3 separate regions of the Homo sapiens genome follow, and all the other regions are reported to be linked to region 1. Evidence: microRNA targets listed by miRTarBase, many of them from high-throughput screens and not tested one by one. Region 1 holds a microRNA gene; each other region holds the end of a gene's coding sequence.
What was found. Region 1 holds the annotated microRNA hsa-miR-664b-5p (UGGGCUAAGGGAGAUGAUUGGGUA, at 1,182-1,205, shown strand). A microRNA usually pairs through its seed, bases 2 to 8, with sites in the 3' UTR of a target mRNA and lowers its output. Matches are read on the target gene's strand: a 7mer-m8 pairs with bases 2 to 8, a 7mer-A1 pairs with bases 2 to 7 and ends in A, and an 8mer does both.

Region 1 (3,259 bases):
ACATTCTTCAGGATTCTGTTCTCTTATTAAAAGTAGATGCCCTTGAAGTTGAAGACTTTCTAAAACCTGCCCTACAGCTGGGATATTGTCTGTGGGCGATAGTTTTTGTTATCTTTTGTTGAAAAAGTGAACAGTGCCTAGTAAAGTGAGATGGCTTTTACACCTTTTATGATGACTGCTTCTGCTGGAGTTGAAATGTTTTCATTCTGCATTTGTGTAGTTCGGTGCTTTGTTCAAAGGTAAGTGTTTTCACCAAAGTATGTTTTGCATGTGTTTTTTATTTGTTGCAATTTTGACTGCTTAGAAGTTTCTGTTGTCAGAAGTAAATTTAAGACAATGCCAATTTTCCTCCCATCCATGAAACATACCATGCTGAATATACCTGCAACTTAAGTGTTAAAAATTCTGCTAATATCAGAATTACAGATCTTTTTTTTTTTTTTTTTTTTTTTTTGAGACGGAGTCTCGCTCTGTCGCCCAGGCTGGAGTGCGGTGGCATGATCTCGGCTCACTGCAAACTCTGTCTCCCGGGTTCACACCATTTTCCTGCCTCAGCCTCCCAAGTAGCTGGGACTATAGGCGCCCGCCATCATGCCCGGCTAATTTTTTGTACATTTAGTAGAGACGGGGTTTCACCATGTTAGCCAGGATGGTCTTGATCTCCTGACGTCGTGATCCACCCGCCTCTGCCTCCCAAAGTGCTGGAATTACAGGCGTGAGCCACCGTGCCTGGCCAGAATTACAGATCTTTACAGCAAATGCTTATATTTTAAGAAGTGTGTCTGTCACCTCTAGTCTTGGTGGCTCAGATGAAGGATAACTGCATTTCTCAACCAGTGATGTATTTACAGTAGGTGCTGCTTTTCTTTTGTGTGTGTGTATCTTAGGAATCTTTTGGGTGAGTTGTGAGGCTGGCACCTACATTCGGACATTATGTGTGCACCTTGGTTTGTTATTGGGAGTTGGTGGTCAGATGCAGGAGCTTCGGAGGGTTCGTTCTGGAGTCATGAGTGAAAAGGTATGTGTTACGGGGCTAGAAGTTTTAGAGCTGGTTCTTACCATCTGCCAGCCTTTGATGGCACTCCACTTGCTTCATGTCGTGGGAAAGATGCTTTCCAAAGTGTTGAGTTCAGTCCAGGGCAGCTTCCCTGTTCTGTTAATTAAACTTTGGGACATTAAAATGGGCTAAGGGAGATGATTGGGTAGAAAGTATTATTCTATTCATTTGCCTCCCAGCCTACAAAAATGCCTGCTTGGGGTCTAATACTTCAACGGTTAAAGATGCCTGGAAGAGGGCGCGGTGGCTCACGCCTGTAATCCCAGCACTTTGGGAGGCCGAGGCGGGTGGATCATGAGGTCAGGAGATCGAGACCATCCTGGCTAACAAGGTGAAACCCCGTCTCTACTAAAAATACAAAAAAAATTAGCCGGGCGCGGTGGCGGGCGCCTGTAGTCCCAGCTACTCGGGAGGCTGAGGCAGGAGAATGGCGTGAACCCGGGAAGCGGAGCTTGCAGTGAGCCGAGATTGCGCCACTGCAGTCCGCAGTCCCACCTGGGCGACAGAGCGAGACTCCGTCTCAAAAAAAAAAAAAAAAAAAAAAAAAAGATGCCTGGAAGAGCCAGGACTGAAGAGGCTGAAGACATAATGAGCTTGGACTAGTAAACAAGTGACATTCAGTTTTAGGAAGTTTGGGGTCTGATGGGCTGAGATACAAATAAACTGAATTATTTTCATACATGGCTGCTTTTCAGGACCACATGGTGACAATGCATGATGTGCTTGATGCTCAGTGGCTGTATGATAACCACAAGGATGAGAGTTACCTGCGGCGAGTTGTTTACCCTTTGGAAAAGCTGTTGACATCTCATAAACGGCTGGTTATGAAAGACAGTGCAGTAAGTTCCGGGTTAGGAGTTTATATTTGGAAAGAACGTACTCCAAAGATGAGGCTTGCTCTTTTTATTGTTTTCCTTGGGTTTTATTTTATTTTTTTCAAGTCCAAACCAAGTATATTAATTTAAAGTAAAAGTTTAATGGTAGGCATACTTAAAAATAAGGCACATTAGGCCAGGCACAGTGGCTGATGCCTATAATCCTAGCACTTTGGCAGGCTGAGGCAAGAGGATCACTTGAGTCCAGGAAGGAGTTTGAGACCAGCTTGAGCCCAGGAGATCAAGGCTGTGAGCTGTGTTTTTATGATGATCAGAGAGTTGGCCTTTTATAAATTAAAACATTGTCTTTTTCTCTAACTTGAGGGATAAAAATTTCTGGATATTTAAAATGTTTGTAGTTGGTAATTATTTATATTCAAATCTTGTATAGATGTTCACATTTTTTGTATGTGTATAGGCTGTAATAAATACTGAAAGATGGCACCATAATAGTTGAAAAAACTCAGTCACAAAACAGTGGACAACATAAATGTGATGTCCTCTCCTTATCAAACCATTGGCTTCTGGGTGAATGTAAAGGGAGGGGAGAATGTGATCAAAAGAGGTCTAGGTGAGTGGAGATGGTATGAGGCAGATGGGTGCATTGGGTACCATTGAACCTCTGGAGAGGTAGCCTTAACTTGTACCCACTGACCTATAAATTCTGCACCAAGACTTTTGTGTGATTGGTTCAACAGGGCTCAGTAATCTTGTTTTCAAGTTCTTTAAGAGCCTGTTATTGCCTGGATCTCCAGTAAATCTGTTCTTTCTCCTCATAAGGAGGAGAGAGGAGTAATTAAGGAATGCCAAGGCTATTTTTATGTTTCAAATGAAAATATGGACCACGTGCGGTGGCTCACACCCATAATCCCAGCACTTTGGGAGGCCGGGCCAGGCAAATTGCTTGAGCTCAGGAGTTTGAGACCAGCCTGGGCAATATGGTGAAACCCTGTCTCTATTAAAAATACAAAAATTAGCTGGGCGTGGTGGCACGTGCCTGTAATCCCAGCTCCTTGGGAGGCTGAGAATCACTTGAACTTGGGAGATGGAGGTTGCAGTGAGCCGAGAATGTGCCACTGCACTCCACCCTGGACAACAGAGGGAGGTTCTGCCTGAAAATTAAAAAAAAAAAAAAAAAAAAAAGAAAATACTTGTGAGTCTCTAGAACCTGAAAACCTGAAAGTCTTCTTTACTACTTTTGAGTCGTGTGTAATGTGCGGAGAGTGGTACCTATAGCACAGTGAGGTGGCTCTTCTGAGTACCACTCATGCCCCTTGCAGCTAGTGGGCTATAAGTGTCATCCCTGTTTCCTGGTGTCAGGCCCCAC
Region 2 (3,259 bases), not on the chromosome of region 1:
AGGCCAATAGTAAAAACAGGAAAATTTAAGAAAATGTTTGGATGGGGTGACTTTCATTCCAACATTAAAACTGTCAAACTCAATCTCCTCATCACAGGGAAAATTGTTGACCATGGAAATGGAACCTTCAGTGTGTATTTCCGACATAATTCAACAGGCCTGGGCAATGTTTCAGTGAGCTTGGTACCACCCTCCAAGGTGGTGGAATTTGAAGTTTCCCCCCAGTCTACCTTGGAGACCAAGGAATCCAAATCTTTCAATTGTCGCATTGAGTATGAAAAAACAGATCGGGCGAAAAAGACCGCCCTGTGCAACTTTGACCCATCCAAGATCTGCTACCAGGAGCAGACTCAGAGCCATGTGTCTTGGTTGTGCTCCAAGCCCTTCAAGGTCATTTGCATTTACATTGCCTTTTACAGTGTTGATTATAAACTCGTGCAAAAGGTGTGCCCTGACTACAATTACCATAGTGAGACCCCATACTTATCTTCTGGCTGATCTTCCTGCTGTGGTGGAAATGAGGGATACATATGTATTTGATTAGAATGACAAAGAAACAAGCCCAGCTCTTTATGATAAAGGATCCCTTTTGTTTCTGGCAGTGAACAATAGTTCCCTATCAGGTTTTCAAATTTAAAAAAAGAAAAAGAGACATCTTTAAGTGTGAAATTTGTTTCTTTCTATCGTAGGTACCTTTATCTAAAAAGTTAAACTGTTTATGAAACCATCACTTTCATGCAAGATGACTAAGTTCTAGAAATCTTATTGTTTCTCTGAAAGAAACATCAATGATAGCAATATGTGACAAGAAGGAACAAAATTATGCATGTGACAAACATTGCTCTTGAAATGAGCCTGCCTTTGAAATATGTTTTGGAAGGTTACCGCAGAAACAGCAGATGCGGTAAAGGAAAAGATTGTATTTGATAGATGAATTGTGTTTTTGACATTGGACCCTTTTTTTTATATTTCTATCTTTTCCCCCATCCATCTGTGCTGTTATTGATATGAGAGAAAAAAAGGTAAAATTTGTTTCAAAATTCATGTGTGAAGTTACAGTGCCACAGTGGAACCAAGTTCCTTATCATCTGAGCTACAGTTGCGTGGAATGTGATTTGAGCACTTAGCCCTGTGTTGGTCACCATTCTTATGATTCCCCCTGAGTTTGAATACTGATGTAATGGGAAAGCAAATCTGAGAATAAGTTTGTTGAACGATAACAAAAATCATGATGTTTTTAGACTCTTCTGATAAATTCAAATGCTGTGGAATTAATCAAAAAATGACAAAATTTGTATGCATCCTATAGCTTAGAGCTTTATTCAATTCATTCGATAGTGTGATTCTTTACACATGTGTAGAACAGCTCTGAAGTTGAGTGAAAGTGCTTGTTTCCTAGACTAGAATAGAAAACAAAAGTGGGAAGTAGAGGGAGGAAATTTCAGGATTATGGATTCATTATTTCTAGCCTCCCAGATTAAGTTCCCCTTGCATTTAGTTAATATTTGAATAAGAGATCAAACTCTATGTGGAAATAGAGAGTTATATTTAAACATTTCTAATTATTAAGTGCTGACAACCAAGATACCTGGCTTACCAGACTTTTGAAATGACTTTCAAATTAATGTCACTTCACAGTCAGTGCCCTTCTCATCTTCCCTGTGGGGGTGAATAGCAGTCCTATATGGTAGAACTGAATGATCATTAAATTAGAACAGAAACAGGGGTCTGGTTGGCCAAGAAAAAGGCTTCTAGAACTCAGGACGCTCATGGAATGGTCACTCCTTTTACAATAGATGTTAACTTCTTTCTCCCTTCTTATCTGTAAAATATTAATTAAAGTAAAACATTAAATTGAGGACTAAAGGAAGAGAAGTCCTAAACAACAAGAAATACTCTTACCACACTGTTCAAAAAACCAAGAGCTCTGTTCTCTATCTTCATTTCTTTCCTTTTACCGGTAATATCTGCAGTGTTCAATTTTTGTCTTTTGTAAAAATTGTACTAAGCTTAGTGTGTGGTAGTACAGGCTTGAAGTTCTTGCTCTGAGTTCACCACATGTTTTTGTAATTTTGTGGTTGGTGATTAATATTTTGAAACATCTTTTTATTTTCACCTAGAAACAAGAGTAAAATATTATTTATTGTAAAATATGTGGGAATCATATATCTATATATATATACTTAGAATTTTCTGTGTACAGAGAAAGTATGTGTACACATTTTATGTAAATAAAAAGAATTTGCTAGATCTGTCACATTAATCCTGGGTGGTTATTTTTTAAAGACTCTGTTCTCCTTGTTTCTTTTCCTCACAAGGGCTTATTCTGTGCATGTGTGTGTGTGTGATACCAATTGAACAAGAAGGTTTCCCTTAGATACATGTTAAATAGGCATCTTGGCTGTGGAGATTTTAAAGTAGGGCAAAAGAATAACTCACATAAAACATTTTGTACATAGCATGGCATCTAGTAAGAAAGAACTCTACTTGTGAGCTGCCATTATGATTATTATTGTTTTGACGTGAAGTAATGAGGTTTAAAACTATCTGATGTTCCAAAGTTGAGAGATGTGAACATTATTTCTATGCAAAAAAAAAAAACAAAAAAAAAACTGTAAATTGATTTATACAGTTCTTAGATGTTAGCAGCGTTTGTGGAATTTTTTAAAAGTTTCCCATAAGCTCGTTTGTAAGTTGGAGTAGAATATATGCCACATATATTTCTAAGTCATAATTTCATTTCAAAGCATACCTAATTGTCAGTAATGGTACTTGGCACAATATAAATCAGAGCCCACTTAAGCATGCAAATACACACATTTCTACAAAACTATTTTTTGCCCTTTAGTACTGCTATTGAGGAAAAGGATATTCATGGAAGCTAATTTTGCACTCAGTCACAAACTGTTTAAAAACTAAAGCAACAGAACTTTTAAACGTATAGACATATTAACATATAGAAGAGTAATATTTCAAAGAGAGTGCAGCCTACACTACCTTCTTAATCCTCTTTTTTGACAGACAGGAAAACCCAAGTCCCCATGAGGGTAATGATGTGCCCACTAGTAAATGGCAAACCCAACTGAAATGCATTTCTCCTGACTCCTAGTCCCAGCTCTTGCGTTACATAAGAAAGGTAAATTGAAGCAGGTATTCAAGACAACAAAAATAATTGCAATGAGTTTATAACAAGACAGGACCCAGTAGCCAAAACTGAACCTGAAAACGGTGAAAATAACCTCCCCCTAAAATATTTAGG
Region 3 (3,259 bases), not on the chromosome of region 1:
AGGGCTAATATCCAGAATCTACAATGAACTCAAACAAATATACAAGAAAAAAACAAAGAACCCCATCAAAAAGTGGGCAAAGGATATGAACGGACACTTCTCAAAAGAAGACATTTATGCAGCCAAAAAACACATGAAAAAATGCTCATCATCACTGGCCATCAGAGAAATGCAAATCAAAACAACAATGAGATACCATCCCACACCCGTTAGAATGGCAATCATTAAAAAGTTAGGAAGCAACAGGTGCTGGAGAGGATGTGGAGAAATAGGAACACTTTTACACTGTTGGTGGGACTGTAAACTAGTTCAACCATTGTGGAAGTCAGTGTGGCGATTCCTCGGGGATCTAGAACTAGAAATACCATTTGACCCAGCAATCCCATTACTGGGTATATACCCAAAGGATTATAAATCATGCTGCTGTAAAGACACATGCACACGTATGTTTATTGCGGCACTATTCACAATAGCAAAGACTTGGAACCAACCCAAATGTCCAACAATGATAGACTGGATTAAGAAAATGTGGCACATATACACCATGGAATACTATGCAGCCATAAAAAATGATGAGTTCATGTCCTTTGTAGGGACATGGATGAAGCTGGAAACCATCATTCTCAGCAAACTATCGCAAGGACAAAAAACCAAACACCACATGTTCTCACTCACAGGTGGGAATTGAACAATGAGAACACATGGACACAGGAAGGGGAACATCACACACCGGGGCCTGTTGTGGGGTGGGGAGAGGGGAGAGGGATAGCATTTGGAGATATACCTAATGCTAAATGATGAGTTACTGGGTGCAGCACACCAACATGGCACATGTTTACATATGTAACTAAACTGCACATTGTGCACATGTACCCTAAAACTTAAAGTATAATAAAAAAAGATTAAAAAAAGAAAAATGGTAGAAATAATATTATATGATTTGTGACAGAACAAAATGTGATTTTGACTTTGTTGAATTTGGACAGAGAAGAAACTGGAAGGGAGACATGAGAAATTGGCAGTGGTTTTCCCTTAGTGCTGGAATTATGAGTGAGTTTGGTGAGTTATTTTTCTTTATACTTTTCTGTTCTCTTTAAATGCGCATGTAATTTATTTATGATAATGTAAATACTTCTTAAATGTCTGTAACTCTTCAAAAGTGATGCTTCAGGATAAATGAGCTGCTAAGCATTTTAAGAATTTACGTAACTCTAATATACTGGAGGGAAGGGATGGATCTGAAAGGCTACCATCAGTAAGAGGAATAAAACTTGCTCTGTGTCCTCCAGAAGTCTGGACAGTGATCAGCAGGTAATAGACACAGAGGAACTGATTTCAACTTTTGAAAAAGAGTTTTCCACTAATTAACACTGTCCCACGGCGGAATAGGTTCCCTGAAGATGTTGAGTGCTGAAAGTGATCAAGCAGAGGCTAGAGGGCTTCTTGCCTGGGAGCAGGGGAGGGTTGGGGGAGAAGGACAAGAGGACAGTGGGGTAGGTGACCTCTAGCATCATTGTCACTGCTAATATTCTATCTGTGCATTCATTTGCTCATTCACACAGCTTCCAAGATGGCCCCCAATGATCCTTGCCAGTGGAGTATTCATGCCCTTGTGCAATTCCCTCCCAGACTGAACAAGCTGATCAAAATAATCAACAGGATACTCGTGGAAAAGATGGTGCATGACTTCAAACATAAAGATTTGGTAGCTTCTGCCTTGCTCTCTCTTGAGTTGCTCACTCTGGAGTAAGCCAACTGTTGTGTCATGAGGACACTCAAGCAGCCTGTGGAGAGGCCTGAGAGGAGAGGAACTGAGGACTGCCAATACCTGACAGAAACGTGCCAGGTATGTGAGTGATTCACCTTGGAAATAGACCTCCAGCCCAGACAAGCCTTCAAACGACCACATCCCCTGACATCTTGTCTGTAACTTCAGAGAGACCCTAGCAGAATGATCCAGGTAAGCCATGCCTGAATTCCTGACCCATAAAGACTGTGTGGGATTAAGTCACTAAAATTGGGGGTAATTTTTTAATATTAGATAACAATGCGATACATTTTTACCTGAAATGTAAACAGGTAAAATCTGTTATGATTTGTTCCATAACAGAGTTAATATTCTGTGATTCAGTCATTTCAGCTGAACTATTGACAAGTTTTCCTTAATAAGGCAAAATCCCCAACTGTGATAGATGCATAACGGTAGCCGCTCCACTTAAGCAGTACAGTTTAACCCGCCACCATTCGATGTCTTAACATGTTCCAAGAAGAACAATGTCATCTTGGTTTTAAGGTGATGCATCTTGTTTTTTTCTGATAGAAAAAGAATAATGTGCTTTTTATTCTCCTAGAGATTTGGTGTCTGTGAATGGTTGTAGCTCTGTGACATTTACCATACATTTCTCAGCTTCCACCCATCAATTTGCTGAGAAAAAAAGGTATGCTACAAATCGCAGCAATAGAGCACTTTAAAAAGGTAATTTTCAGCATTTTGGCACCTAAAAGGGAAACTTTCATCTGCTTACACAGGCCAGAAGCAAAGACAAAGATTGCATGTTGTTCTTACAGATGACTTAAATCATCTCTTTGATGATAAAAATATTTTTAAGCCGTGAAAGTTATGAGATATTCTGGGTAAGCCTGATTATCAAAGAATACCACAAATAGCTTTGGAGATCGTGTATTGTTTGTCACTGAGTCAAAGAGATCTGTGGGATTGTGAGGATTCTTGGGTGGAGGGGTGACTAATCCTGCACGTCCCTTTGTGAAGACTCCAGTAAGTACTCGCACAACGTACATGTGCTTTCTCCCATTGCTGTCTGGCTTGGAGTAGGTGTCCTTGGCAGAATAACTGGCATCCACAGCAAAATAGGTTCCTTTTCCATAGGATACAGCTGGAAAGAGAAAGACAAAAACCTTCCTAAGAATATAAAATTACACAATGTGTAGAACCATGCCCAATCTGACAAAATTGTTTTCTAAATGCAGTTTTAGCCAGGTGTGTTGGCTCATGCCTGTAATCCCAACACTTTGGGAGGCTGAGGCAAGAGGATTGCTTAAGGCCAGGAGTTCGAGACCAGCCTGGCTAGCATTATGAGACCCCTTCTCTACAAAAATAAAACAAAATTATTAGCCAGGCATAGTGGTGCATGCCTGTAATCCCAGCTACTCAGGGGACTGAGGTGGGGGCATCATTTGAGCTCAAGAGATCAAGGCTGCAGTGAGCCATGATCTTGCCACTGCACTCCAGTTTGGGTGA

Region 2: the mRNA of NXPH2 is a reported target of hsa-miR-664b-5p. Seed matches in the 3' UTR shown: 7mer-m8 at 1,124-1,130.
Region 3: the mRNA of PARP15 is a reported target of hsa-miR-664b-5p. Seed matches in the 3' UTR shown: 7mer-m8 at 2-8.

Annotation. Positions count from the first base shown.
Region 1 is chrX:154,767,415-154,770,673 of GRCh38, forward strand. MIR664B (microRNA 664b) reads left to right here and starts at 1,182; the gene lies at 1,182-1,242. It overlaps DKC1 (dyskerin pseudouridine synthase 1), which reads left to right. Exons shown (of 15, transcript NM_001363.5): 8 at 888-1,018; 9 at 1,753-1,896. SNORA36A (small nucleolar RNA, H/ACA box 36A) reads left to right here and starts at 1,114; the gene lies at 1,114-1,245.
Region 2 is chr2:138,668,161-138,671,419 of GRCh38, reverse strand. It overlaps NXPH2 (neurexophilin 2), which reads left to right. Exons shown (of 2, transcript NM_007226.3): 2 at 1-2,263. The coding sequence ends at 498. Among named protein-coding and RNA genes, the nearest start is that of LINC02631, 68 kb to the right of the region's middle. RefSeq lists an enhancer at 62-785.
Region 3 is chr3:122,635,446-122,638,704 of GRCh38, reverse strand. PARP15 (poly(ADP-ribose) polymerase family member 15) reads right to left here. Exons shown (of 12, transcript NM_001113523.3): 12 at 1-2,894. The coding sequence ends at 2,605. Among named protein-coding and RNA genes, the nearest start is that of PARP14, 44 kb to the left of the region's middle. RefSeq lists an enhancer at 2,413-3,259.